Homo sapiens: one gene and its partners. The protein of the gene in region 1 interacts with the protein of each later gene in a pairwise test. Each region holds a gene or a part of one and is shown in the gene's direction. Other genes may lie near its edges.

Region 1 (6,935 bases):
GGCTCAAGCAATCTGCCCACCTCGGCCACCCAAAGTTCTGGGATAACAGGCGTGTGCCACTGCACCCGGCCTGGTTGTTTGTTTGTTTGTTTTTTAAATTGATTCCTGTTAAATGCTGACAATAGGTCAGATAAAGAGTTCTCAGAGTAGACCTTTGGATTTAACTATATGGAGGTCATTGGTAATCTTGTCAAAAGTAGCTTCTTGGGAGTGGTGGAGGTGAAAGCCTATTTCAGATGGGTTTCAGAGAGATTGGGAGGAGAGGCATTGAGTTTAGACATTTCTTTTAAGAGTTCTACAGAGGGGGCAGAAGAAGTAGAAGGGGAATGCCGATGAGGAGTTGGCAGAGTTTTCTATAAGATGGAAGAGTTTATGACCCCCCTGCCCTTTTTTTTTTTTTTTTAATAATGCTACTGGGAATGACCTAGGAGAAAGAGAAATTGGCAATGTTCTTTCCTTGAAGAGGGATTGGCCCTATATATATGTGTACTTTTATGAGACTGGAGGAAAGGCAGAGTACATAGATGCTTATGATGACAGGTTCTTAGATAGTGCAGGAACTTGTGGAAGTGTTTTTTTCTGAATGCTTCTGTTTTCTCAGTGAAGTAGAATGCACGTTCAGAATGAAGATAGGGAAGTGTTCTTAGAGATTTGAGGACAAAGGAGAAGGTATAAAGTCATTATCTATGGAAGTGAGGGATTGGACTAGGGTGCAGGCCAGTAAAACATGGCTTGTGAACCAAATTCTGCCTGCCCTGTGTTTTTGGAAACACACAAAGTTTTGTTGTAACCCAAGCATGCTCATTTATCTGTTGTCTATGGCTGCTTTCCTACTGGAATAGCTGAGTTGAATAGTTACAACAGAAACCATATGGCTTGCAAAGCATACAGTATTTACTCTCTGGCCCTTTACATAAAAAGTTTGCTGACCTCCAGACTAGGGAAATCTAGTATAATTTCCAGGCAGCCTTAAAAACTCTTTAGAAGTTAATGGTCCAGAATAATGACAAATAGCTGATTGTTGAATTTCACTATCTTCATTGCCCCTGTTAGAGAGTTTTGAGCTGGAAAGACCGAACTGAACAAAGGATGTCAATGTATAGGTTTCTTCCACAAATACTGAGCTCTTGCTAGATGCCAGATACTGTGCTAGCCTTGGGAATTCTTGCTCTCAGGAAGCTTACAATGAACTTAAACCTGATTAAAGACAATTCATGAATATATGTGTGATTTCAAATAGAGAACGACATGCCCTATATTGCCTGACCAAACGGTGCATCATCAAAGTTATTCAAACTGTAGTAGCCTGTGCTGTCTTACTTCTCTTCCTATTCTGTATCAGATCCATTGTTGCTACCCCAATCCTATAGCTCTTTGATTCATGTCTGTTATGTGGGTGGATGGAGAACTCACTTTATTACTGCTACCATAGATCTGATACTTCACCACTTGAATCTTGCACAGAAACCAGAGAAGCTAGCTAATGCATGCTGTAGCATTTAAAAATTCCATGTGATACAATTATGTATGATTACATTTCAGTTTTGCTATACTTTATATTTGGCTTGTATGATTAAAGTAAACAAAGTAAATTCCATTGTTATAATTGGTTTTGAGTGTTATAGGTTTATTCAAATCCAAGATTTGATTACAGTTTTGATAAGAGTCACAGCTTAACAGGTATCTGGAGTTCACATGTGCATAGCTATTTCACTGTATAAAAATAGATTAAGATATTTTGAGATTTTGGTGATATTTCCTGTTTTTAAAGTTTCAGGGGTGTGTCTAATTCTTCTTGGTGCTGGTTTATTTAACAGAAGTCTTAGTTTTTGGATATTAATATTGTGGAAAGTTAACAGAGCTGATGTCTAGCTGATCAAACTCAAAGTAAGCTCTTCAGTTTAAATTTTCGATGTGGGCATAAATCAAGTAAAGGTCTAATTTTTAAAACTAATTTCCAGTATTTTTTCTAAACAGATTATGAAGCAATTGTGAAGCTTTCGGATGGCTTTAATGGAGCAGATCTGAGAAATGTTTGTACTGAAGCAGGTAAGGGTTTAAAGTACAGTTTTACTATTGATTTTGATTTTTAAAATTTGCTGAAACTGTTTTGAGTTTATCTGAAAGCGGAGCATAGACTTTGCAAGGATTTGGGTTCATGCTGTTCTTTTAGGAATCGATTCCAGGAAATAGGAGAAGCAGGGCAAGTGAGATGGAAAGAGGGAAAGCTAATATGAGGGTGCACCATTGAGGTAGGTGCTGTAGGAAAGGGAGGTTAGATCTCAGAGAAGCATACAGAATGCCTTCCAGGATCACCCAGCTGAAAGTTGGGAGACTAGAACATTGATTTACCAGTACTCATCCCCCATTGGATGAGATTTGTCCTTGGTAGTGTTGACTCCTTTGCACTTCTACCTGCCTTAGGGCAGAATGTGGAAGGAGAGGCATGTAATAGAACACTGGCCCCCTAAAGTAAGTCTGAGGTGCTACAGAATTGCCTACCACACCTGTGGCTGGAATTAGAATGGGCCAGCACCAGAGGTATCTGCTGCAAAATGAATTGTGTATGTTGTCTAATACTAGTCTGTGAGCAGTGTTTTGAAAGATTGATTTATGAATTATGTGATCATGCCATTTGTGTAAAATGTAGTATTTAAATATAATTCTCTGTGGATTGTGTGATACTATTTTTTTCACTTCTACATGGTATGTAAAAATTGTGTGATGCTATTTTTATTTCCAGTACCAAGTAGCTTTAATACCCTACCTAGAATCATTTAGTTTTTGTCTTCCATACAGAATCTTTAAATAGAAAAAATAAACTTCTACAGTATAGTTACTGACTTTATAGGTTATAGATTTTCTTAAGTATTAGAATATGTGATTTCCTCTTGCTTTTCATATCATGTTTAGCCTTAGTAAATTCAACACAGTGTTTAAAGTGGCTGCTCAGGGAGGGCTTCTCAGTACAGGTATCTTCATGGGTATTGGGTATGCTGTGAGTCAGTATCTGCATCAGATATGCAGGTCAGATACTTCTGTTCACGTCTAGAAATGCTGTCAATGCAAATTAGGGTAAATCATGCTCACAGAGCGTTATCAATAAACTAAACTATTTAGAGGTAAACTGTCATATAGCTTGAACAAGTTAGAGTAATTTATGACATTCTCTTTCCAAAATGTAAACCAGACCAAATTATTATCAGAAGATTGCTTTGGTTAGATTGTAATCCAAATGCAAGCTGTGCAGTGAACCTAAAGGCTGTTGCTATCAAAATATACGCTTTTTTTCCTTACATATTCTTACAAATTTACCTTTAGTTATTGCAAATGAGCTATAACTTCTGTGTGGATTAAAATTGTAGTTCTTTTTTAACTAGGTGGGACATTCACATCTGGAAACATACTGAAATTTTTATCTTCTTTTTAGACTTGAAGGCTTTTTTGTTAACATTTTTCGTAAGTTAAAATACACTTGATTCAACTACAGTTGCCCTTCCTGTTCAGGTCCTGACATTATCTCTTTTGGATTATAATACATCTCTATTTTATTTTTTCTTTTGAGACGGAGTCTCACTCTGGCCCAGGCTGGAGTGCAGTGGCATGATCACTGCTCCCTGTAGCCCAGACCTGATCATTTCTCCTTTATCTTCCAGTAGCTGGGACTATAGGCGTGCGCCACCACACCCAGCTAATTTTTGTATTTTTTGTAGAGACGGGTTTCACCATGTTGTCCAGGCTGGTCTCAAATTCCTGGGCCCAAGTAATCCACCCACCTGGGCCTCCCAAAATGCTGGGATTACAGGCACAAGCTACCAGGCCTGGCCAGGCATCTCTTGTGCAGATTTACTTATTCACTAAAGTGATTTGGAAAATAGCCATGTGTGCAAGGTTTACAAAAATAACTTACCTAGTTTCACTGTAGCTTTCTAAACAAGTTTTGAAACTTTGTTATTTTTTAAAAATCAGTCATTTCCATTCACCCGGTTTCTAGGACAACATAGATTGTTTCCTTATGTAGAAATCTAGAAAGGAAGTAATCCTTGAAATCTTCTATATTAACTCCCTCATTTTATGTAAGTGAAAATTCAATACAGGCAGATCCTCAGTGGAAATTTTAGAATTCATTTAATTAGTAGATAGCAATAAACTTACCTGCTTTAGTTTATCATGAGTTAGGATTATCTCAAAATCTGGGACCCATATCCATAACACAACTAATGTTTAAAAAACTGCATACAAGGAAACTTTTACCCCTTTGTCAAATACTGTTTGAGAAGGTACTTGTCAAAAAGTTGAAGGAAAAAATTGAGTTGTGATACTCAAATATGAATCAAATAAAAATACCAATTTGTACATAAATTAGGTAAATTTTAACACATGAATAATGACTCCGAGTTTTGCTAAAACCCGCTGTTGGCTTTCTATATGATTCCCTATTCTCAACGTTTTTGATTATTAACAAAGAATGGCTATCAAACTTACTCAAGATTTTTTTTCCCCCATAAATGTGTGCCTTCCAGCAAATTGCTTCCTGTCAAGTTAAGTTACGCTTAAAATGTGTATGTGTTGGTAGTTTTGATTGCTTCGGTTTTTTATGCTTGTTTTTATTAAGAGCTACAATCAGATACAGGGACCATTTAAGCCTGATTTTATTTTATTTTATTTTTTTGAGACAGAGCCTCACTCTGTCACCCAGACTGGAGTGCAGTGGTGCGATCTTGGCTCACTGCAACCTCTGCCTCCCGGGTTCAAGCGATTCTCCTGCCTCAGCCTCCCAAGTAGCTGGGGTTACAGATGCCCACTACTACGCCCAGCTAATTTTTGTGTTTTTAGTAGAAACGGGGTTTTACCATGTTGGCTAGGCTGGTCTCGAACTCCCGACCCCAGGTAATCCGTCCACCTTGGCCTCCCAAAGTGTTGGGATTACAGGTGTGAGCCACCGTGCCCAGCCTTGAACCGGATGTTAAATATTCATATAATGGTCATACCTGTTTTTGTTTTAGAACATAATCACAACACCGCTATGGATTTTTTTTTTTTTTTTTTTTTGAGATGGGGTCTCGCTCTGTTGCCAGGCTGGAGTGCAGTGCCACTATCTCAGCTCACTGCAACCTCCGCCTCCTGGGTTCAAGCCATTCTCCTGCCTTAGCCTCCCGAGTAGCTGGGACTACAGGCGCGCGCCACCATGCCCAGCTAATTTTTTTTTTTTTTTGTATTTTTAGTAGAGATGGGGTTTCACCGTGTTGGCCAGGATGGTCTTAATCTCTTGACATTGCAATCTGCCCATCTTGGCCTCCCAAAGTGTTGGGATTACAGGCGTGAGCCACCGCACCCGGCCTGTGGATTTTAATTGAAAAAAGATAGTGGTTTTTAGCAAATTACAACTACTGGCTCAGAAGTAATAAATCTAAGCTTCACATTTATTCCATAGAATTATATTGTTTTTCTTATAATGAACATATAATTCATATGTGATATATAGCAGTCATGTTGTTTTATTCTCTACAGGTATGTTCGCAATTCGTGCTGATCATGATTTTGTAGTACAGGAAGACTTCATGAAAGCAGTCAGAAAAGTGGCTGATTCTAAGAAGCTGGAGTCTAAATTGGACTACAAACCTGTGTAATTTACTGTAAGATTTTTGATGGCTGCATGACAGATGTTGGCTTATTGTAAAAATAAAGTTAAAGAAAATAATGTATGTATTGGTAATGATGTCATTAAAAGTATATGAATAAAAATATGAGTAACATCATAAAAATTAGTAATTCAACTTTTAAGATACAGAAGAAATTTGTATGTTTGTTAAAGTTGCATTTATTGCAGCAAGTTACAAAGGGAAAGTGTTGAAGCTTTTCATATTTGCTGCGTGAGCATTTTGTAAAATATTGAAAGTGGTTTGAGATAGTGGTATAAGAAAGCATTTCTTATGACTTATTTTGTATCATTTGTTTTCCTCATCTAAAAAGTTGAATAAAATCTGTTTGATTCAGTTCTCCTACATATATATTCTTGTCTTTTCTGAGTATATTTACTGTGGTCCTTTAGGTTCTTTAGCAAGTAAACTATTTGATAACCCAGATGGATTGTGGATTTTTGAATATTATTTTAAAATAGTACACATACTTAATGTTCATAAGATCATCTTCTTAAATAAAACATGGATGTGTGGGTATGTCTGTACTCCTCCTTTCAGAAAGTGTTTACATATTCTTCATCTACTGTGATTAAGCTCATTGTTGGTTAATTGAAAATATACATGCACATCCATAACTTTTTAAAGAGTATGATTCAACGTAATATTTGCTAATATGTGACTGGGTTTTCTTGGTTTATGTAAGACGATAGGTCCCTGTTGAGGATGTGGAGGTCTGGACCCTCTTCCAGGAAAAATTCTAACATACAATTTTGCGTATACTATAATTTCAGGAAATTTATTGTTTCCCAAGCTCATCCAAGGACTCTTTAGGTATGTATGGATACCTGGCTAAGAGTGTATGATGTAGGGGATGTAGGAGTGTCAGAAATGTTCAAAACATGATTTCTGTTACCTATACATGATTCTTATATCATCTGGCAATAAAAGCTATAACAAAGTACACAAAGGAATCATCATTGGGCATCAATAATTATTAAAGATGCTGGTGAAAAGAAAAGACAACTTCAGTTTCATAAACACTAAAGAACCAAAAATACATGACCTAGCTAATTATACAATAATTCTTCAAATTAAAAACTTCCTAGCAGGATATTATGTGCCTTTTTATAATTTTAGAAGATGAACAGTTAAAATAGAAAATGGAGTGGTCAAGTTAGCCATCTCATACTCAAATTATTGTACAGTTCTATTTCTATGTGTTGGCAGTGCATTTTATGTGACAAAAAGTAGAATGTAGGGGGAGGTTTAAGTCAAATATCTATGTGATCTTTT
Region 2 (7,990 bases), on another chromosome or scaffold:
TGGCATGCACCTGTAGTCCCAAATAGTGGGGAGGCTGAGGTAGGAGGATTGCTTGAGCCCAGGAGTTCAAGACCAGCCTGGGCAACATAAACCCCCATCTCTGCAAAAAATTAAACAAGGATTGGCTGGGCATGGTGGCTCATGCCTGTAGTCCCAGCTACATGGGAGGCTGAGGTGGGAGGATCACTTGAGCCTGGGAGGTCAAGGCTATAGTGAGCCATGATCGTACTGCTGCACTCCAGCCTGGGCCATAGAGCAAGACGCTATCTCAAAAAAATTTACAAAACAAGCCAAAAAAAACTATCATCTGTGTGCTCCCTTTAAAAAATAAATAAATAAAACATTGGCCAGGCGTGGTGGCCCAGACTGTAATCCCAGGACTTTGGGAGGCTGAGGTGGGAAGATTGCTTGAGCTCAGGAGTTCAAGACCAGCTTAGACAACATGGCAAGACCCTGTTTCTACCAAAAATACAAAAATTAATCGGATGTGGTGGCATGCACCTGTAGTCCCAGCTACACAGAAGGCTGAGGTGGGAGGATCGCTTGAGCCTTGGAGGTTGAGGCTGCAATGAGCCATGATTGTGCCTCTGCACTCTAGCTCGGGCAACAGAACGAGATCCCATCTCAAAAAAAAAAAAAAAAAAAAAAAAAGGAATATTACCAGCACCTTTGAAACTTCCTTTTTCTAGAAGTTGATTGTATTGGTTCTTAGCATGCATAAGGAGATTTTAAGCTTAGAACATATTAGCACTTGGTTTAAAGATGTTTTGTGTATGGTTTATACATGTAGAAACTGAGAACGCTTTTAACCAAAAGAGCTGAGAGATTCGTTATCATCAGAAAAGAAAAGTCAGTTACGAATTAGTTGTTAGGGGCTTTGCTGCTCAAAGTGTGTAGTGGACAATAGGCAAAAAGTGAGAAGCATGGTCAAGGGTGTTTGGATGGGCTTGAAAACCCTGTGCATTTTATTTTATTTTATTTTATTTATTTATTTTTGAGTCGGAGTCTCACTCTGTTACCCAGACTGGAGTGCAGTGGCGCGATCTCGGCTCACTGCAAGCTCTGCCTCCCGGGTTCACACCATTCTCCTGCCTCAGCCTCCCGAGTAGCTGGGACTACAGGCGCCTGCCACCACGCTCAGCTAATTTTTTTGTATTTTTAGTAGAGATGGGGTTTCACTGTGTTAGCCAGGATGGTCTCGATCTCCTGACCTCTTGATCCGCCCGCCTTGGCCTCCCAAAGTGCTGGGATTACAGGCGTGAGCCACTGCACCTGCCTTATCTATTTAATTTTTTGAGACGGAATCTCTGTCTGTCGCCCAGGCTGGAGTGCAGTGGCATGATCTCAGCTCACTGCAACCTCCGCCTCCCGGGTTCAAGCAATTCTCTTGCCTCAGCCTCCCAAGTAGCTGGGCCTACAGGCACACGCCACCACACCTGGCTAATTTTTGTATTTTAATAGTGACAGGGTTTTGTCATGTTGGCCAGGTTGGTCTCAAACTCCTGACCTCATGATCCACCTGCCTCGGCCTTCCAAAGTGCTAGGATTGCAGGCATGAGCCACTGCGCCTGGGCAACACTTTATATTTTAAAGGGAAGTTGGGGGAGGGTGCTATTTTCAACCTTGCTCAAAGAACAAATAATTGGGAAGCAATAAATTTTCTGATGAATATGCTTCATATTTCTTTAGACAGTGGGGTCTAATGGAAAGGCTAAGATATCTGACATGGAGCAACATGTATTTATCTCTTCAGTGGAACTAATGTGTAATTTTCAGGGGAGTTTGATGAATAAATGAGTTTGAGAATATAGGGCAGAGGACTTGGAATTTGTGTCAGGGTTATGGCTGGTGAGATTGATTTGGTGTCAAATTTATGAATATCTCTGCAGATACTAACACAGAAAATGAGCCCCAAGGTCACTATAGCAGTATAGTAGTGGAGGGAAATAGAAACTATCTTTATCAAATTTCTACACAGACATACCCCTCACCAGGGAAGCAAGGAAGTTGAAAAGCACACTTTGCCTCCCTAACCCAGGAATTTAGATGGGGGATCAGCAAACTGTTGAGTAAAGGGTCAGATTTTAAATATTTTCAGCTTTTCCATAGAGTCTCTGTCCAACTACTCAACTATGCCTTTGTAGTGAAAAACAGTCATAGACAATACGTAAATGAATGGGCTTGGCTATCTTCTTTTTTTTGTTTGTTTTTAAGATGGAGTCTTGCTCTGTCACCCAGGCTGGAGTGCAGTGGTGTGATCTCAGCTCATTGCAACCTCTGCCTCCCAGGTTCAAGCAATTCTCTTCCCTCGGCCTCCCAAGTAGCTGGGCCTACAGGCGCACGCCACCACACCTGGCTAACTTTTGTATTTTTAGTAGTGACAGGGTTTTTTGTCATGTTGGCCAGGTTGGTCTTGAACTCCTGACCTCAAGTGATCCTCCCGCCTCGGCCTCCCAGTGTTGGGATTACAGGCGTGAGCCACCACACGCCTGGCTTTTTTTTTTTTTTTTTTTTTTTTTTTTTGAGATAGAGTCTTAACTGTTTCAGGCAGTGACGTGATCTTGGCTCACTGCAAGCTCCGCCTCCCGGGTTTACACCATTCTCCTGCCTCAGCCTCCCGAGTGGCTGGGACTACAGGCGTGTGCCACCACACCTGGCTAATTTTTTGTATTTTTAGTAGAGAGACAGGGTTTCACCGTGTTAGCCAGGATGGTCTCAATCTCCTGACCTTGTGATCCGTCCACCTCAGCCTCCCAAAGTGCTGGGATTACAGGCGTGAGCCACCACACACTGGCTAACTGCTTTTAACTATACAAATAATAAAATACTCTTGGATGGAGTCTAAGGTGGAACTGACTGTGCTCTTAATAGTGTCTGAAATTTATATGGTACTTACTGGACTGTTCACAGGCTCTCTGTGGCTCTTGAAATAGCAGGGGCTGGGTGTGATGGCTCACACCTGTAATCCCAACACTTTGGGAGGCCAAGGCGAGAGAATTGCTTGAGGCTAGAAGTTCAAGACAAGCCCTGAAAACATAGTGAGACCCCCATCTCTACAGAAAATTTAAAAATTGGCTGTGTGTGATGGCAACTGCCTGTAGTCCCAGCTACTCAGGAGGCTGAAGTGGGAGGATCACTTGAGCTTGGGAAGTGGAGGCTACAGTGAGCTGTGGTTGTGCCACTCTGCACTCCAGCCAGGATGACAGCAAGACCCTGTCTCAAAAAAAAGAGAAAGAAATAGAAGCAGGGATATACTTGAAGGGGTATGTGTGTGTTCATGTCGGTACATTGGATGCTTGGTGCTGCTCGGTAATTTTGAATGCCTCACATGCATTATGCCATTAATTCTCATACACCTGACAGATGCAGGGTTCGTCCCTAAGGCTGATTAGCTCATTATGAGTGAAGAGTTTAGAACCAGACTCCCTGAGTGCAAGTCTAACCTCTTCTTTGGCTCCTCATTTGTAAAATGGGGATAATAACAGCATCTACCTCACAGACTATTAAATAATCCAATCTCTTCAAAGATCGTAAACCATGCCTAGCATAGATAATAAGTATGAGCTCTTTATTATTACTCTTGCTCCTACTACTCTTGCTAGCTATTTATTTTTATTTTTATTTTATTTTATTTTATTTTTTTGAGACGGAGTCTCGCTCTGTCACCCAGGCTGGAGTGCAGTGGTGCAATCTTGGCTCACTGCAAGCTCCGCCTCCCGGGCTCACACCGTTCTCCTGCCTCAGCCTCCTGAGTAAGTGGGACTACAGGCACCCACCACCATGCCCGGCTAATTTTTTGTATTTTTAGTAGAGACGGGGTTTCACCGTGTTAGCCAGGATGGTCTCGATCTCCTGACCTCATGATCCGCCCACCTCAGCCTCCCAAAGTGCTGGGATTACAGGCATGAGCCACTGCGCCGGCCTCTTATTTATTTATGTTTTGAGACAGTCTTGTTCTGTTGCCCAGGCTGGAGTGTAATGATGCAGTCATAGCTCACTGCAGCTTCTAACTCCTGGGCTCAAGTAATGCTCCTGCCTCAGCCTCTTGAGTATCTGGGACCGCAGGTGTGTGCCACTATGCCCGGCTCATTTTTTGTCTGTTTAGTAGAGACAGGGTTTTGATATGTTGGACAGGCAGGTCTCCAAGTCATCTGCCTGCCTTGGCCTCCCAAGGTGCTGGGATTACAGGTCTGAGCCACCACGCCTGGTGGATTTATTATTTTTAATTTGGCAAGTCTGTAAGCCCTTTTTTGTTCCTTTTTTTTCAAGAGGCCAGAGGCAGAGGCCTTTGTCATTTTCTGTGTGTCCAGGGAAGTGTGCAGGATGTAAGCCATAGATTAGGACTGGGAGGAAGAGTGTGTGGTGGTTGTGACAAGGGTCCAAAGGAAGGCAGCTTCCGAACTTACTTGAGATTATAAAAATAAATTTAAACCAGGTATCTCTGTGTAATCAAAAGGTTTCTGTAAAACAGAGATGGAGTGTATGTGTGTGTGTATACTTGTAATTTGAAAAGACATTCAGAATAGTAACTTTTGGGACAGTACAGACTACAAAAATTACAACATGATAGAACCTTCTTAACTACTAAGAATATAGAAAGGAAAATAAAGCCAGGCGTGGTGGCTCACACCTGTAATGACAGCACTTTGGGAGGCTGAGGCGGGTGGATCACATGAGGCCAGCAGGAGTTTGAGACCAGCCTGGCCAACATGCCAAAATCCTGTCTCTACTAAAAATACAAAATTTAGCTGGGTATGGTGTTGCACATCTGTAATCTCAGCTACTCGGGAGGCTGAGGCAGAAAAATCACTTGAACACGGGAGGTAGAGGTTACAGTGAACTGAAATTGCGCTACTGCACTCCAGCCTGGGTGACAGAGCAAGATTCTGTCTCCAAAAAAAAGGCTGGGCTCAGTGGCTCACACCTGTAATCCCAGCACTTTGGGAGGCCGAGGCAGGCAGATCACGAGGTCAGGAGATCAAGACCATCCTGGCTAACAAGGTGAAATTCCGTCTCTACTAAAAATAGAAAAAATTAGCGGGGCGTGGTGGCATGTGCCTGTAGTCCCAGCTACTCAGGAGGCTGAGGCAGGAGAATTGCTTGAACTTGGGATGCAGAGGTTGCAGTGAGCTGAGATCCTGCCACTGCACTCCAGCCTGGGCAACAGAACAAGACTCCATCTCCAAAAAAAATGTAGAGGCCGGGCATGGTGGCTCATGCTTGTAATCCCAGCACGTTGGGAGGCCGAGGTGCGTGGATCGCCCGAGGTCAGGAGTTCAAGACCAGCCTGGCCAACATGGTGAAACCCCTTCTCTACTAAAAATAAAAAAAGTTACCTGGGCGTGGTAGTGGGCGCCTGTAATCCCAGCTACTCAGGAGGCTGAGGCAGGAGCATCACTTGAACCTGGGAGGCAGAGTTTGCAGTGAGCTAAGATCACGCTATTGCACTCCAGCCTGGGCGACAAGAGCAAAACTTGTCTCATAAAAAAGGAAAATAATTTATTATAGAGGAGAGTGGTATATTAAGAAGTTTGACAGGCACTGGCTTAGAGTAAGATTTTTCTCTTAGAGTAATTTTCTTTCTCTCTTAAGGTATCCAAGCCCACCAATGGGATCTGTCTCAGCACCCAACCTGCCTACAGCAGAAGATAACCTGGAATATGTACGGACTCTGTATGATTTTCCTGGGAATGATGCCGAAGACCTGCCCTTTAAAAAGGGTGAGATCCTAGTGATAATAGAGAAGCCTGAAGAACAGTGGTGGAGTGCCCGGAACAAGGATGGCCGGGTTGGGATGATTCCTGTCCCTTATGTCGAAAAGCTTGTGAGATCCTCACCACACGGAAAGCATGGAAATAGGAATTCCAACAGTTATGGGATCCCAGAACCTGCTCATGCATACGCTCAACCTCAGACCACAACTCCTCTACCTGCAGTTTCCGGTTCTCCTGGGGCAGCAATCACCCCTTTGCCATCCACACAGAATGGACCTGTCTTTGCGAAAGCAATCCAGAAAAGAGTACCCTGTGCTTATGACAAGACTGCCTTGGCATTAGAGGTAAAATCTGTTCAGATTAGCTTTTTGGGTCCTTTGACATTTGGTTTTAATTTTTAGTTTTAGTTTAGTTTCTGCTCATTTAAGCTTATATTCATGGAATTAGAGCACTGGATGATTTTGGAAGATACGCACTGTTAGCGTTTCATTTTAAAATTTTTTTATAGAGACGAGGTCTCTAATTTTAAAAGAGTTGTTTGCCCAGGCTGATTTCGAGGTCCTGGCCTCAAGCAATCCTCCTACCTCGACCTCCCAAAGTACTGGGATTACAGATGTGAGCCACCATGCCTGGCCCATTATTAGTGTTTCACAGCTTGTTTTGTTCTGTCCTATTCCTTGTTTGCCCCAAATTCTCAGCCTTCTTGCTCTTTCTTGTTCCCAAAGCCTAACAGATTTAGTTTTGCAGTTGTTGGTTTTTCTTCCAGTAAGGAAAGATAATGATTAAGGAAGACCCATGACCTAGAGGCAAAATCAACATATATGGTTCTGTATTTCTAACATTGGAATCAGTTGAGAAATATGAAAATGTCTTAGAATTTCTCTTGAGCTTGGTAGAGGAATGAATTTTTTTTTTTTTTTTTTTTTTTTTTGAGATGGAGTCTCACTCTGTCGCCCAGGCTGGAGTTCAGTGGCTCAATCTCCGCTCACTGCAAGCTCCACCTCCTGGGTTCACACCATTCTCCTACCTCAGCCTCCCAAGTAGCTGGAACGACAGGCACCCGCCACCACGCCTGGCTAATTTTTTTGTATTTTCAGTAGAGACAGGGTTTCACCGTATTAGCCAGGATGGTGTCGATCTCCTGACCTCGTGATCTGCCTATCTTGGCCTCCTAAAGTGCTGGGATTACAGGTGTGAGCCACCGTGCCCGGCCCAGGAATGATTTTTTTTGAGATGGAGTCTTACTTTGTCACCCAGGCTCCAGCACAGTGGCATGATCTTGCCTCATGGCAACGTCTGCCTCCTGGGTTCAAATGATTATCCTGCCTCAGCCTCCTTAGTAGCTGGGATTACAGATGCCTGCCACCATGCCCGTCGAATTTTTGTATTTTTAGTATAGATGGGGTTTCACCATGTTGGCCAGGCTGGTTTTGAACTCCTGACCTCAGGCGATCTGCCTGCCTTGGCCTCCCAAAGTGCTGGGATTACAGACATGTGCGACCACGCCCAGCCATAGAGGAATGATTTTAAAATACATCAGCCCTTGCTTGTTATGGATTTTGTAAATTAGAATAGCATGAAATAGAACTTGAACATTTTAATTACCAAGTCATTTTCTTTTCTTTTTTTTTTTTTTGAGACAGAGTCTCGCTCTATTGCCTTGTTGCCTAAGCTGGAGTGCAGTGGCGTGATCTTGGCTCACTGCATCCTCCGCCTCCTGAGTTCAAGTGATTCTCCTGCCTCAGCCTCCCGAGTAGCGGGGCTACAGGCATGCACCACCCTGCCCGGCTAATTTTTGTATTTTTAGTAGAGACGGGGTTTCACCATGTTGGCCAGGCTGGTCTCGAACTCCTGACCTCAGGTGACCCACCCACCTTAGCCCGCAAGTGCTGGGATTACAGGCATGATCCACTGCACTTGGCCAAGTCATTTTCTTCTAACTAAATATTACTTTTTAAAAAAACTCTTTCTCAGCTGGGCACAGTGGCTCATGCCTGTAATCCCAGCACTTTGGGAGGGCGAGGCTGGTGGATAACTTGAGGTCTGGAGTTTGAGACCAGTCTGGTCACAGACATGGTGAAACCCCATCTCTACCAAAAAATACAAAAATGAGCCAGACGTGGTGGGCATGCACCTGTAGCCTCAGCTACTCAGGAGACTGAGGTGGAACAATTGCTTGAACCAGGTAATTAGAGGTTGCAGTGAGCCGAGATCATGACACTGCATTTAAGCCTGGGCAATAGGGTGAGACCCTATCTCAAAAAAAGGGGGGAGAA
Region 3 (7,439 bases), on another chromosome or scaffold:
GGCTGCTGGCAGCTGGAGAAGCTGAGTCCAGGCCTGCTTTTTGCATGTATTTAACTCTTTTGTGTCTCCTCAGCCAGCCCTAAGCACTAAGCATTCCTTTTTTCCTTAAGATGTACTGCTGTATTTTTGCTAAGTGTAAAATCACAGATGTCCTCAGTGGACACTTCAGAAAATACAGAATATAAATATTTACTTACTTTTTAAATCTTTTTTCTATATATGTTATATATTTGTAATTTATATATGCTTTTTTTTTTTCACTCAGCATTACCACAACAGGCATTTTCTTCTCTTTAAGATGCTTTATAAATATTTTCATCATAGTTTTTATCAAGTTGCACTATAATTTACTAACTTCCACATTCAGGCTGTTTTCAGTTCTAAATAATATGGTGATGAATAATTGTGCCTACGCTTGATTACTTTTAGATTATTTTCTAAAACAGAATCCCAGAAGTGGAATGACTGGGATGAGAATCATGAGGAGTTTTAAGATCCAGGTCTTCTGTGCAGTTATCTTTGAGGCTGTGACAGGTTATTTTTGGCTTTGGTTCCCTTTCCCCCAAATGGGGCTCCAGACTGTTTTCCTCTCCTTCACATATCCAGTGCTGTTCTATCACAGGACTTTCTGAGCCCATTACATTTCTTCCAGAAGATCCTGGGCCTGCACTGAGCTTGTTCCAGTTAGGTTTGCTGTGCTAGAGCTCAGTGTAGATGTAGGAGGCAGGGCTGGAGCTCCGAGTGAAGCCATCCTGGCCAGCGCTTGGCTAAGGTCCTTCTAGTTGGAGGCGGTCACTGCAGCTCCATGGGAACCTACATCCCATGGAGGTTCTTCATCCACATGGAGGAACTTCATCCACAAAACAAAGGGTTTGAGCTTCAGGAGCAGCAGCAGAACTCTTGTTTGCCGTGGGAGTTGGCAGCGAGCACTCCAGCTGGAGTGGTGGCAGCTTTGGCCAGGAGTATGCTGACCGGTGTAGTCAGTCCAGGGAACAAGAGGATGGCCCTGGAGGGGCTTTTTCAGTGTTGCTTCTTTTCTAGACAGAGGAGGATATCTTGGTCAGAAAAGAGCTTGAAGAAATTGCCAGGACTCACCCAGACCAGTTCAACCTGTGGTACACCCTGGACAGGCCTCCCATTGGTACGACATCCATTGCCCTCACTCACCATGGGTCAGCACCAACCCTTGACCACTTTGAGGACTGGTCTCTGTCTCTTTGTTTTGTTTTAGTTTTGTAGGACCAGATGTGGGGGTTAAGCCTGGGGCTCTGGCTCCAGATGGGAAATGTGAGAAATTGAGGGAGAAAGGATTTGGGATGGCCTGCTTTTAAGGGCAATCGAGAGCAGGTGTCTAATACATCAGCAGCACCTCACGCTGCACTGAACATCAAAAGGGACACTGCCCCTGTCCACTGTGAACACCCACCCATTCCACACAGCCATCACATACACATCTAATATGGGCACTGACCCCTTCACCACTCACCCTTCTGCTTACGGCCACCACACCCCTTACCGCCCACCTCACCTGGACATGCTGAGCCCCCAGACAGCTGCTGCAGCCCAGACAGCATCCCAGCAACCACTGTGCACAGAGCACCCCACAGGCGCGCCTCTCACACTGCTCCCGGCTGTACCTGCTTGTCATACAGGTCCCTGGTCGGCAGAGGGCGCTACCCTACTGAGCAATTCTGCGCAGTTCCACTAACACCAGGCCACACCCTGCCGGACAACTCCAGCTGGCTGTACTGATTCACACACCTCGGTATACCTCGTTGTGTTCTCCTTCCTCGTCAATGCTGACAGCTGACAGACAGCAGCAGGGCTTCAGGGTCCCTGCAGTGAGCCTGGGACCTGGGGTGATTGCTGCAGAGGGCTGTTTACTAGTTCTGAGGCTTTTTGCAGGGAGCAGTAGTACAGACTTCTAAGCCTTTGTAGAGCAGCTTGTCACCTCCTCCCTGGCTGAGGGTGGGTGTGCAGGCGGCCTGGGATCAGGAACTCCACCTGGCATCGCTCAGCTTGCTCCTGCATCTCCTTCATTTCAGGCTGGAAGTACAGCTCAGGCTTCGTTACTGCCGACATGATCAAGGAGCACCTTCCTCCTCCAGCGAAGTCCACGCTCATCCTGGTGTGTGGCCCGCCACCACTAATCCAGACGGCGGCTCACCCTAACCTGGAGAAGCTGGGTTATACCCAGGACATGATTTTCACCTACTAACACCTCCACGTGCTCAGCAATTTTGCATGTCCCTTTTCATCTGTTTCAGAGTAAGTTCAATTTCACCACGGTAAACTGGGATGTTTTCAAAAGTGCCTTGCCATGTACCTTCGCGCACACACTGGTTCTCCTCTTTTGGGTGTGGGCCTAACAAAAAGGGCTCAAGGGGCTGGAGACTGGCTGCTGGGGCCTCCTTGCTTGGAGGCTGGAAAGAGCTCCATTTCAGTATCTTTCTCCGTGGTTTTGTGAAATAAACTCAAGTACAAAGCAGACAGCCCATGAAGTGTGGCTCTGTGGGGGACGTGCTAGGCAGTCAGGAGGCCGTGGCCTGGCCTGTGAGTTGGCTTCTGCATGCCCATGGGGGTCACAACTGGCAAGTGTCGGGGCAGTTCCTAAAAAACTCCAAGTGGGGTCACATCAACTCTCAAGAATCTCTCCATGGCACTAGGGGTCATGGTAGGAGTGGTTACACACAGAAACTTCTCAACTTTCAAAGTCAGGTTCCAGAAACTGCCTTAAATCCTTTGTATCATGAAACCCAAACGAGGGTCTGTCGGGGTGGGGGGGAGGGACAGCCAACCTCACCCATCCCCCTGTTCACTGTCTCCTTGGGGATCCTTCACTGCTTTCAAGGGAGACCCCACTCTGGCCACCCCCATCTCTCCAGGACACACTCCAGGGCCTGGCTCCCAAGGCCCTTCTTGGTTTGCTCCTGCCGACTTTATCAGATTTTTCTTTCCCTGGGCCCCCAACTCCGACCCCATTCTCTCACCTACTGGTTCTCAACTGAGGGTGATTTTGCTGCTCAGGGAACAGATAACAAAGTCCAAAGACATGTTGGTTGTCAGCTACAGAAGGGGTGCATCTACCCTCTATTAGCATTTAGAGGGTAGAGACCAAGGATGCTGCTAAACATCTTAAAACCCACAGGAGAGCCTCCATCACAGAGTATTTCCATCACAGAGTATTACGCAGCCCAAAGTGACAGCAGCACAGAGGCCAGGAAACCCTGCTCTAGCCTACCAACTTTTGGCAATCCCTAGGTTGTACTGGGCTGTTTCAAGTCTGTCTACCTGGAATGCCCTTCCTCTCCGGCATACCTGGGAAAATATGATTCATGTTTCCAAATTCAAGTGTCATCTCTTCCATGGAACCTATTCAGACTCCTTCCCCAAACCCCCATTAAGAATGACAACATGCAAGGGAGGAGCCAAGACGGCCGAATAGGAACAGCTCCGGTCTACAGCTCCCAGCGTGAGCGACGCAGAAGACGGTGATTTCTGCATTTCCATCTGAGGTACCGGGTTCATCTCACTAGGGAGTGCCAGACAGTGGGTGTAGGTCAGTGGGTGCGCGCACCGTGTGCGAGCCGAAGCAGGGCAAGGCATTGCCTCACTTGGGAAGCACAAGGGGTCAGGGAGTTCCCTTTCCGAGTCAAAGAAAGGGGTGACGGACGCACCTGGAAAATCGGGTCACTCCCACCAGAATACTGCGCTTTTCCGACGGGCTTAAAAAACGGCGCACCATGAGATTATATCCCGCACCTGGCTGGGAGGGTCATACGCCCAGGGAGTCTCGCTGATTGCTAGCACAGCAGTCTGAGATCAAACTGCAAGGCAGCAGCGAGGCTGGGGGAGGGGCGCCCGCCATTACCCAGGCTTGCTTAGGTAAACAAAGCAGCCGGGAAGCTCGAACTGGGTGGAGCCCACCACAGCTCAAGGAGGCCTGCCTGCCTCTGTAGGCTCCACCTCTGGGGGCAGGGAACAGACAAACAAAAAGACAGAAGTAACTTCTACAGACTTAAATGTCCCTGTCTGACAGCTTTGAAGAGAGCAGTGGTTCTCCCAGCTCGCAGCTGCAGATCTGAGAACGGGCAGACTGCCTCCTCAAGTGGGTCCCTGACCACTGACCCCTGAGCAGCCTAACTGGGAGGCACCCCCCAGCAGGGGCACACCGACACCTCACACAGCAGGGTATTCCAACAGACCTGCAGCTGAGGGTCCTGTCTGTTAGAAGGAAAACTAACAAACAGAAAGGACATCCACACCAAAAACCCATCTGTACATCACCATCATCAAAGACCAAAAGTAGATAAAACCACAAAGATGGGGAAAAAACAGAACAGAAAAACTGGAAACTCTAAAAAGCAGAGCGCCTCTCCTCCTCCAAAGGAATGCAGCTCCTCACCAACAACAGAACAAAGCTGGATGGAGAATGACTTTGACGAGCTGAGAGAAGAAGGCTTCAGACGATCAAATTACTCTGAGCTACGGGAGGACATTCAAACCAAAGGCAAAGAAGTTGAAAACTTTGAAAAAAATTTAGAAGAATGTATAACTAGAATAACCAATACAGAGAAGTGCTTAAAGGAGCTGATGGAGCTGAAAACCAAGGCTTGAGAACTACGTGAAGAATGCAGAAGCCTCAGGAGCCGATGCGATCAACTGGAAGAAAGGGTATCAGTGATGGAAGATGAAATAAAAGAAATGAAGCGAGAAGGGAAGTTTAGAGAAAAAAGAATAAAAAGAAATGAACAAAGCCTCCAAGAAATATGGGACTATGTGAAAAGACCAAATCTATGTCTGATTGGTGGACCTGAATGTGATGGGGAGAATGGAACCAAGTTGGAGAACACTCTGCAGGATATTATCCAGGAGAACTTCCCCAATCTAGCAAGGCAGGCCAACGTTCAGATTCAGGAAATACAGAGAACGCCAGAAAGATACTCCTCGAGAAGAGCAACTCCAAGACACATAATTGTCAGATTCACCAAAGTTGAAACGAAGGAAAAAATGTTAAGGGCAGCCAGAGAGAAAGGTCGGGTTACCCTCAAAGGGAAGCCCATCAGACTAACAGCGGATCTCTCAGCAGAAACCCTACAAGCCAGAAGAGAGTGGGGGCCAATATTCAACATTCTTAAAGAAAAGAATTTTCAACCCAGAATTTCACATCCAGCCAAACTAAGCTTCATAAGTGAAGGAGAAATAAAACACTTTACAGACAAGCAAATGCTGAGAGATTTTGTCACCACTAGGCCTGCCCTAAAAGAGCTCCTGAAGGAAGTGCTAAACATGGAAAGGAACAACCGGTACCAGTCGCTGCAAAATCATGCCACAATGTAAAGACCATCAAGACTAGGAAGAAACTGCATCAACTAACGAGCAAAATAACCAGCTAACATCATAATGACAGGATCAAATTCACACATAACAATATTAACTTTAAATGTAAATGGACTAAATGCTCCAATTAAAAGACACAGACTGGCAAACTGGATAAAGAGTCAAGACCCATCAGTGTGCTGTATTCAGGAAACCCATCTCACGTGCAGAGACACACATAGGCTCAAAATAAAAGGATGGAGGAAGATCTACCAAGCAAATGGAAAACAAAAAAAGGCAGGGGTTGCAACCCTAGTCTCTGATAAAACAGACTTTAAACCAACAAAGATCAAAAGAGACAAAGAAGGCCATTACATAATGGTAAAGGGATCAATTCAACAAGAGGAGCTAACTATCCTAAATATATATGCACCCAATACAGGAGCACCCAGATTCATAAAGCAAGTCCTGAGTGACCTACAAAGAGACTTAGACTCCCACGCATTAATAATGGGAGACTTTAACACCCCACTGTCAACATTAGACAGATAAACGAGACAAAGTCAACAAAGGATACGCAGGAATTGAACTCAGCTCTGCACCAAGTGGACCTAATAGACATCTACAGAACTCTCCACCCCAAATCAAGAGAATATACATATTTTTCAGCACCACACCACACCTATTCCAAAATTGACCACATAGTTGGAAGTAAAGCTCTCCTCAGCAAATGTAAAAGAACAGAAATTATAACAAACTATCTCTCAGACCACAGTGCAATCAAACTAGAACTCAGGATTAAGAATCTCACTCAAAACCACCCGACTGCATGGAAACTGAACAACCTGCTCCTGAATGACTACTTGGAACATAACGAAATGAAGGCAGAAATAAAGATGTTCTTTGAAACCAACGAGAACAGAGACACAACATACCAGAATCTCTGGGACACATTCAAAGCAGTGTGTAGAGGGAAATTTATAGCACTAAATGCCCACAAGAGAAAGCAGGAAAGATCCAAAATTGACACCCTGACATCACAATTAAAAGAACTAGAAAAGCAAGAGCAAACATATTCAAAAGCTAGCAGAAGGCAAGAAATAACTAAAATCAGAGCAGAACTGAAGGAAATAGAGACACAAAAAACCCTTCAAAAAATTAATGAATCCAGGAGCTGGTTTTTTGAAAGGATTAACAAAATTGATAGACTGCTAGCAAAACTAATAAAGAAAAAAAGAGAGAAGAATCAAATAGACACAATAAAAAATGATACAGGGGATATCACCACCGATCCCACAGAAATACAAACTACCATCAGAGCATACTACAAACACCTCTACGCAAATAAACTAGAAAATCTAGAAGAAATGGATAAATTCCTCGACACATACACTCTCCCAACACTAAACCAGGAAGAAGTTGAATCTCTGAATGCACCAATAACAGGATCTGAAATTGTGGCAATAATCAATAGCTTACCAACCAAAAAGAGTCCAGGACCAGATGGATTCACAGCCGAATTCTACCAGAGGTACAAGGAGGAACTGGTACCATTCCTTCTGAAACTATTCCAATCAATAGAAAAAGAGGGAATCCTCCCTAACTCATTTTATGAGGCCAGCATCATTCTGATACCAAAACCTGGCAGAGACACAACAAAAAAAGAGAATTTTAGACCAATATCCTTGATGAACATTGATGCAAAAATCCTCAATAAAATACTGGCAAAACGAATCCAGCAGCACATCAAAAAGCTTATTCACCATGATCAAGTGGGCTTCATCCCTGGGATGCAAGGCTGGTTTAATAGACGCAAATCAATAAATGTAATCCAGCATATAAACAGAGCCAAGGACAAAAACCACGATTATCTCAATAGATGCAGAAAAAGCCTTTGACAAAATTCAACAACCCTTCATGCTAAAAACTCTCAATAAATTAGGTATTGATGGGACGTATTTCAAAATAATAAGAGCTATCTATGACAAACCCACAGCCAATATCATACTGAATGGGCAAAAACTGGAAGCATTCCCTTTGAAAACGGGCACAAGACAGGGATGCCCTCTCTCACCACTCCTATTCAACACAGTGTTGGAAGTTCTGGCCAGGGCAATTAG
Region 4 (7,990 bases), on another chromosome or scaffold:
ATACATAAATAAAAATGTTTTGTAGAGAAGAGGTCTCATTATGTTGCCCAGGCTGGTCTCAAAACTCCTGTGTTCAAGCAATCCTCCTGCCTCTGCCCCCCAAAATGCTGGGGTAATAGGTGTGAGCCACTGTGCTGGCCCTTATCCTCATTGTAACACTTCTGTTTTTCTGCCTTTCACAATAAGGGGCGTCAGCCCCTCTTGGAAGCAGGCAGGGTGTTAGTAAGTGAAGGCTGGATCGGGCCTTGGTGGGTTGCAGCCTGAGGAGGTGAAGCTCTCACCTGCAGCTGTGACCTGCCCCTCGGAAGCAGTCCTCTAAATAACGGGCTCTTCTTTCTGCTTGGCCCCATCCACAAAGATGGCCGCCCCCTCTACATCCTCCGCCTGGGCCAGATGGACACCAAAGGCTTGATGAAGGCCGTGGGGGAGGAGGCGCTGCTGCGGCATGTGAGTCAGGGGCCTCGTTCCTGGACGCCGTGCCTGGGGCCGGGCCTGGGAAGGACTGTGTGGGGTAAAGCAGCGAGGCGGACGTTGAGCAGCACTGTCTCTCCCTTCCAGGTTCTCTCCGTCAACGAGGAAGGACAGAAGCGGTGTGAGGGGAGCACAAGGCAGCTGGGCCGTCCCATCAGGCAAACACCTGGGCTGGGCACAAATCCCCCCTAAACAGCAAAGACGGAGGGTGGAGAGGGGTCCACTGTGCATATGTGCTGGGCTGGGCAGCGTGCCAGGGGCTTCATTCTCCCCCAGTTTCTACAGTGGTCTTCTGGGCCTTGAGGCAGGGCCCGTAAGCATCCCCGTTTTCTATGCATGGGGAAACTGAGATTCAGAATGGTGGCCCCCATCGAAGCTTGTGAGCCGGTCAGGACAGAGCTGGATTTGAACCTGGGGTCCTGTCTGGCTTCTAGCTCGAAGACTTTATCCTCCCACTCCACTCAACAGTCTCCTTGACTTTGCTTTTTTTTTTTTTTTTTTTCTTTTTTGAAACGGAGTCTCGCTCTGTCGCCCAGGCTGGAGTGCAGCGGTGCAATCTCAGTTCACTGCAAGCTCTGCCTTCCGGGTTCAAGCGATTCTCCTGCCTCAGCCTCCAGAGTAGCTGGGACTACAGGCACCCGCCACCACGCCTGACTAATTTTTTTGTATTTTTAGTAGAGACAGGGTTTCACTGTGTTAGCCAGAATGGTCTCGGTCTCCTGACCTCGTGATCCGCCTGCCTCGGCCTCCCAAAGTGCTGGGATTACAGGCGTGAGCCACCACTCACAGCCTGACTTTGCTTTTTGAGATCAGCTCTCCACCACGAGTTCTCCCTTGGCTCTGTCATGGCACATCCAGGAACCCAGTGTCCTCTGCAGGAACCCACTGTCCTCTGACTCCCCCGCATTTCTGTTCCTGAACTGTTTCCCGGAGCCAGTACTTACGGTGGCATCGCCCCCAAAGGCAGCAAACCTTTCTGAGCAGCAGCTTCCTCTTCTGTAAAGTGGCTTTTTTTTTTCCTTTGAGACAGGCTCTCACTCTGTCACCCAAGCTGGAGTGCAGTGGTGCAATCACAGCTCACTGCGGCCTTGACCTGCTGGGCTCAAGCAGTCCTCCCACCTCAGCCTCCCAAGCAGCGGGGACTATAAATGTGCACCACCTTGCCCAGCTAATTTTTTTTTTTGCAGAGATGAGGTCTCACCCTGTTGCTCAGGCTGGTCTAAAACTCCTGGGCTGAAGTGATCCTCCCACCTTGGCCTTCCAAAGGGTTGGGATTACAGGCGTCAGCCTCTGTTCCCAGCCTGTAAAGTGGCTTTTACAAATGGATTCTCAAAAATAATAAGGGTTTAAAAATAATGCAAACACGGATCTTGCACTTGCTATGTAGCAGGTGCCCTTCTAAGCACCTTGATTCATTTCCTCCTCCTAAACAGCCCTGTGAGACACGGGCAGGCAGGAGCTGCTGCTTCAGCTTTTCAGCCCCAAATATCCCGATCTTTGTGAAAATTAAAGTTCCTTTGCTGTTTGCAGATTTTTTTTTTTTTTTTTTGACAGAGTCTCGTTCTGTCGCCCAGGCTGGAGTACAGTGGTGCAATCTTGGCTCACTCCAACCTCCACCTCCTGGGTTCAAGTGATTCTCGTGCCTCAGCCTCCCAGGTAGCTGGGATTACAGGTGCCTGCCACCACGCCTGGCTAATTTTTGTATTTTTAGTAGAGATGGGGTTTCACCATGTTGGCCAGGCTGGTCTCTAGAGATTTTCTAAGGACACGTATGTTGGGGTGGAAGTGGGAATCAATCCATTAGTGTCCTGGCCGGAAGCATAATTCACCCCAGATGGCTCAAATGAGGGAGTGTCATGAAGGGATGCTTTGGAGAGGTGTGTGCAGGTTTAAGCGAACAAATCTGGGAGGTGGAGGCTCCCGGGCACCAGCCGCTGCAGTCAAACAGTTATTTTCCTAATGAATGAATACTAATGAAATGGAGGCACAGAGAGGTTCAGGACTTGACCAAGATCACACAGCAAGTGGCAGAACTGGGATTTGAACCTTGGCCATCTGACTGTGGAGTGCATGCTCTCAGCACCTCTGCTCTATTTAGTAGTTAGCATCTTTTCAACAATTAACTCATTTATGCCTGAGGTTGCAATGTTTTGAATTTTTGCAATCAGACCTTGGTGATGACCTTGAGCAGTAGGATAGAAATAACTCCCACACGCTTAGCATTGCAATAATGGAATGCTAGGCCTAAATGGCCACTTGTGATAACCAGCTATAATTGAGGGCATGTGGTGTGCCCGTCCTTGCAGAGAGCTTTGTATATACCATCTCACTTGATCCTAACAGCAGTTGCTTCAGATGAGGACTGTTACTACCTTTGCCACTGTCCTATGAGTAAGTGGGTCTGTGCCCTGACCTAAGGCTCTCAGGGGTGCAGGTGAGACTTGAATTTGGGCGCTCAGCCCTGAAGTCCACAGTCTGATCCTCTTCATCGCATGGGCTCCCTACTGTGGCAGGAGCCCCCATCTGCTCCCAGCCCTATCTCTCGGAGCCTCCCTGTTCATCCCCTGTGGGGAGGGTGTTGGTGGCCTTGGGAGGCAGCAGAGCCAGGTGGAGCTGGGGCTATTTCTGCCACAGCTCCTGGACCTGCCTGCTAGACCTGGAGGGACTCAACATGCGGCACCTGTGGCGGCCGGGGGTGAAGGCCCTGCTGCGGATGATTGAGGTGGTTGAGGACAATTACCCAGAGACCCTGGGTCGGCTGCTCATCGTGCGAGCCCCCCGAGTCTTCCCCGTGCTCTGGACACTGGTAAGAGCTGGAGCCTGGGCCAGGACTCTCCCTGGGGGTGGGTGGGATGGGAGGGGTTCCGTCTGCAAGCAGCTCTGCTCTCTTTTCCTGTTTCATTTCATTTAGTAACTTTTTGGAGATGAAACTCACATAGCATAAAGCTCACACTTTTTAAGTATAGACTCCAGTGGTCTTTCCTGTATTCACTGAGTTAAGCAATTGTCACCACTAGCCAATCCCAGAACATTTCTGTCGCCCCAAAAAGAACCCCCATGCCCATTATCGTGGGTCTCAAATTCCTGGGCTCAAGCGGTCCTCTTGCCTTGGCTTCCCAAAGTGTTTGTGTTATAGGTGTGAGCCACTGCGCCTGACCTGAAATATACTCTATATTGTAACCCGGTGGGTACACGCGTGCATGCACCCATGTGCGCGCACACATACACCCACGCCCACACACACACTCCTCTGAAACAAGGGTGCAGCCAGCCACTTGCATAGTGTGGGCAAAAGCCTGGAGGCTGGACCCAGCTTGATGCTTTGGAGGAACTGAAGAAACAGTCCAGGGTGGCTGAGCAAAAAAGAGCAAAAGGGACGACAGCACCTGAGGAGGCTGGAAGATGTACAGGGGCAATAGGGACCCATGGAGGGTTCAGTAGCAGGGGAGGGTGGGGGACAGACTTAGGGGCCAGGAAGTTCTCTAGCTTTTGTGGGTGCTTCAAGGCTCTGTTCAGGTGAGGCTAGGGGGCAGGAGCTGCTTCTGAAGCTTTTTATCCTGAATTGTCCTAATCTCCGGGAAAATTAAGTCCACCTGCTGTTTGGGGTGGTTTTGGGAGTGCGAGCACATCAGCCGGGGTCCTGGCTGGAAGTGGACCTCACCCAGATGGTTCAAATGAGGGGTGTCCTGAAGGGGCTCCTTGCAGAGGTGTGGGCAGGGGAAGGAGAGACCCCAAGCACCAGTGACTGCAGTAAGCCTGGCCACCCCCAAGAGGAGGGAATGTCCTTGCAGAATCCTGGGGAAAGCTGGGACAGGGGTGGGGGCAGGGAGCTACTGGGGGTCAGCCTCAGCCTCCTGGGGCCCAGCACAGCACAGAGCGCAGTGGGGCTGGGGACAGGAGAGGGCCCTGCACGGGGGGATTGCAGTTTCCTCACCTATCTCTTGGCTTGTGGCATTCCCTGTAGAACTGGCCTGTTATCTGCCATGCCAAGGGCTCCTTCCTTCTTTCTCTCTCTCCCACTTCCTTCCTTCTTTATCAACATGTGGCTTAGAGCTCAGTGTTAAAATGGATTCCATCTGGAATAAACAAACTGTGGAATACTGTTCCATCCATGTAATGGAATAGCATTCGTCCATAAGAAGGAAGGAAGCACTGATCCTCCAACACGGAGGGACCTCGAAAACCTGATGCTCAGTGAAAGGGGCCAGACACGGAAGTCCATGTACTGTGTGATCTCCTTTATATGAAATGTGCAGAATAGGGCTGGGCGAGGTGGCTCACGCCTGTAATCCCAGTACTTTGAGAGGCCGAGGTGGGTGGATCACCTGAGGTCAGGAGTTCAAGACCAGCCTGGCCAACATGGTGAAAATACAAAAGTACAAAATTAAAATACAAAAATTAGCCAGGCATGGTGGTGGGAGCCTGTAATCCCAGCTACTTGGGAGGCTGAGGCAGGAGAATCACTTGAACCTGGGAGGTGCAGCTTGCAGTGAGCCAAGATTGCGCCATTGCACTCAAGCCTGGGAGACAGAGCGAGACTCTGTCTCCGAAACAAAAACAAAAAAGAAACGCCCAGAATAGGCAAATCCACAGAGACAGAGTGTAGATGGGTGGTTGCCCTGGGTTGGGGGAGGGGAGATGGGAAGTGACGGTGGGGTGGGAATGGGGTTTCCTTCTGGGGTGATGAACATGTCTAGGTAGAGGTGCTGGCTGCACAAGCTAGTGAGTGCACTGAAAGCCACTGAACTGTGCACTTTATAATGATTAATTCTATGTTGTATAAATTATATCTCAATAAAAAAATACATCCATGGTCAGGCGTGGTGGCTCACACCTGTAATCCCAGCACTTTGGGAGGCCGAGGCAGGTGGATCACGAGGTCAGGAGATCGAGACCATCCTGGCTAACATGGTGAAACCCCGTCTGTACTAAAAATACAAAAAAAAATTAGCCGGGCATGGTGGTGGGTGCCTGTAGTCCCAGCTACTCGGGAGGCTGAGGCAGGAGGATGGCGTGAACCCGGGAGGTGGAGCTTGCAGTGAGCCAAGATCATGCCACTGCACTCCAGCCTGGGCGACTGAGCAAGACTCCGTCTCAAAAAAAAAAAAAAAAAAACCATCCATCTTGCCTTATGTCCTGGTTTCAGATCAGCCCCTTCATCAATGAGAACACCAGGCGGAAGTTCCTCATCTACAGTGGCAGCAACTACCAGGGACCCGGAGGCCTTGTGGACTATCTGGATAGAGAAGTGATCCCTGACTTCCTTGGGGGAGAGAGTGTGGTGAGGCTTCCATGTCCACAGACAGACCTGGGCTTGAGGAGGGGGCATGCCTAGCTGGGAGGCTGGGATTCCCGGAGTGGGGCTGGGAGGTGGAGGGGGGCTGGGTGCGGCATGTGCACTCTGCCTAGGGCAGGTCTTGCTGGCTCTCAGCAGCCACAGGGCTTGCTTTAGAAGCTGCTTCAAAGAGAGGTGATGCTGTTCTGAGGTTGGGCCTTACTCTGGGTCCTTCAAACATAGTGAGTGAGATAGAAGTTTCTGGAAGCCTAAAGATTAGGCCAGTCAAAGGCTTACGCATTCTATATTCCCATCAAAGACATTGCCAAGCAGCAGTGAGTTAACCTGCTCATTCACTGCAGGGGAGGTGACTCGAATGTATCTGCAGCTCTGGACCCTGGAGCTGGGACTAGCCTCCAACCCACAGCCACACAGCCTGAAACGATCAGGAACCCCCTTCAAGGGAGGCAGTGTCCAGGCCCCTTTTATTGCCTCCCCTGGGGTGAAATGACAGGCTGGGGTGATCCTAGGTCACAACTCTGTCATCTCATATGGCCCCCAGTGGCCCGGGCCCTCTTTGTTTCTAACAGAAATACCAGACAGTGAGCTTGCGTCATTTCTGGATTTTAAAAAAGTCTTTTCCTAGGAATTTTTCCAGGCTTGCCTGTTCTCTCCGTTTGTGATGTGCGGCACACACGACTTATTTTTAGCAAACGGTTCTGCAGATCTGAGAGTGGCTTATGGAAAGACACTGAACAGTGTCCTGCTAATCCCAGTGTTTCTACAAGTGAAACGGGGTGGGGGTAATCATTGTTTGGTGGTGGCAGGGGGAGTTCTGCCAAGGCCTGGCCATCTAGGGTGCCTTTGGTTTGGGGAAATCTCTCGATGAGCACGGTGCAGTGACTGTTCCACCCCCGCCTGTGACGGGGAGAGGCAGCTGCTATGGGGTGCGGTGTGGAGAGGCCCCCCAGCCTGGCTGTCAGTCCGGCACCGGGGTAAAGGGACATGAGCATGGGGCTGTGACGAACGTGGGTTTGTGCCCTGGCTCACTCACTTTCTGCTGTGTGATCGTGGGCGAGTGGCCTGACTTGCCCGAGCCTCCATTCCTTCCTCTGTGAAACGGGAAGAATAATAGTCTCTACTGCATTGGTGGACCTGGGGATTAAATGGGGTCATGGAAGCCCACAGCCCATTCAGTAAGGGGTTGCAATTATGAGTGGCTTTGGGGGTCACACATCACCCTTCTGTGGGTCAGGCCAGCCAGGCCTCAACTGGCCCTGACCTGCTGCCCTTTATCTCTGACCTGCAGTGTAATGTCCCCGAAGGAGGGCTGGTCCCCAAGTCCCTCTACATGACAGAAGAGGAGCAGGAGCACACGGACCAGCTGTGGCAGTGGAGTGAGACCTACCATTCAGCCAGCGTGCTCCGCGGAGCCCCCCACGAGGTGCCAGGGCCTGGCCGGGGAGGGCCCGCTGAGCTGGAGTGTCTGTCGTCTTAGGTCAGGTGACCCCAAAACACAGCTTGAGATGAGGATTCTTTTTTCTTTTCTTTCTTTCTTTCTTTCTTTTTTTTTTTTTTTTTGGGATGGAGTCTCGCTCTGTTGCCCAGGCTGGAGTGCAGTGGTGCAATCTTGGCTCACTGCAACCTCCACCTCCCAGGTTCAAGCAATTCTCATGCCTCAGCCTCCCGAGTAGCTGGGATTATAGACATATGCCACTGCGTCCAGCTAATTTTTGTATTTTTAGTAGAGACGGGTTTTCGTCATGTTGGTCAGGCTGGTCTTGAAATCCTGAGGTCAGGTGATCCGCCCGCCTAGGCCTCCCAAAGTTCTGGGATTATAGGCGGGAGCCACGGCGCCTGGCCTCTTTTTTTTTTTTTTTTTTGAGACCGAGTCTCACTCTGTCACCAAGGCTGGAGTGCAGTGGCGCAATGTTGGCTCACTGCAACTTCTGCCTCCCAGGTTCAAGTGATTCTTCTGCCTCAGCCTCCCGAGTAGCTGGGATTACAGGTGCCAGCCAGCATGCCTGGCTATTTTTTTTTTGTTTGTATTTTTAGTAGAGATGGGGTTTCACCATGTTGGCCAGACTGGTCTCGAACTCCTGACCTCAAGTGATCCACCCACCTCGGCCTCCCAAAGTGTTGGGATTATAGGCATGAGCCACCAAGCCTGGCCGAGATAAGGATTCTTATGCCAGTGATCTGTTGCAGGCGAGGTCTCAGGAGAAAACTGAGGAGAGGAGGGCA

Evidence for each region.
Region 2: the proteins of PSMC6 (region 1) and CRKL interact in binary tests that used the Homo sapiens proteins (3 or more experiments, as listed by UniProt).
Region 3: the proteins of PSMC6 (region 1) and CYB5R2 interact in binary tests that used the Homo sapiens proteins (3 or more experiments, as listed by UniProt).
Region 4: the proteins of PSMC6 (region 1) and SEC14L5 interact in binary tests that used the Homo sapiens proteins (3 or more experiments, as listed by UniProt).

What each region holds. Positions count from the first base shown.
Region 1 is NC_000014.9:52,721,988-52,728,922, forward strand, and holds the end of PSMC6 (26S proteasome regulatory subunit 10B), read left to right. Parts: intron 1-1,817; coding exon of another isoform or gene 1,818-1,840; exon of another isoform or gene 1,841-1,887; intron 1,888-1,977; coding exon 1,978-2,049; exon of another isoform or gene 2,050-2,053; intron 2,054-5,511; coding exon 5,512-5,630; 3' UTR 5,631-6,603; downstream 6,604-6,935. UniProt on the Homo sapiens protein: Component of the 26S proteasome, a multiprotein complex involved in the ATP-dependent degradation of ubiquitinated proteins.
Region 2 is NC_000022.11:20,928,187-20,936,176, forward strand, and holds part of CRKL (crk-like protein), read left to right. Parts: intron 1-5,592; coding exon 5,593-6,058; intron 6,059-7,990. UniProt on the Homo sapiens protein: May mediate the transduction of intracellular signals.
Region 3 is NC_000011.10:7,660,153-7,667,591, reverse strand, and holds the end of CYB5R2 (NADH-cytochrome b5 reductase 2), read left to right. Parts: intron 1-287; exon of another isoform or gene 288-980; coding exon of another isoform or gene 981-1,037; intron 1,038-1,041; coding exon 1,042-1,141; coding exon of another isoform or gene 1,142-1,205; intron 1,206-1,652; coding exon of another isoform or gene 1,653-1,752; exon of another isoform or gene 1,753-1,765; intron 1,766-2,045; coding exon 2,046-2,218; 3' UTR 2,219-2,488; downstream 2,489-7,439. UniProt on the Homo sapiens protein: NADH-cytochrome b5 reductases are involved in desaturation and elongation of fatty acids, cholesterol biosynthesis, drug metabolism, and, in erythrocyte, methemoglobin reduction.
Region 4 is NC_000016.10:5,000,297-5,008,286, forward strand, and holds part of SEC14L5 (SEC14-like protein 5), read left to right. Parts: intron 1-358; coding exon 359-447; intron 448-558; coding exon 559-629; intron 630-3,105; coding exon 3,106-3,277; intron 3,278-5,617; coding exon 5,618-5,752; intron 5,753-7,055; coding exon 7,056-7,190; intron 7,191-7,990.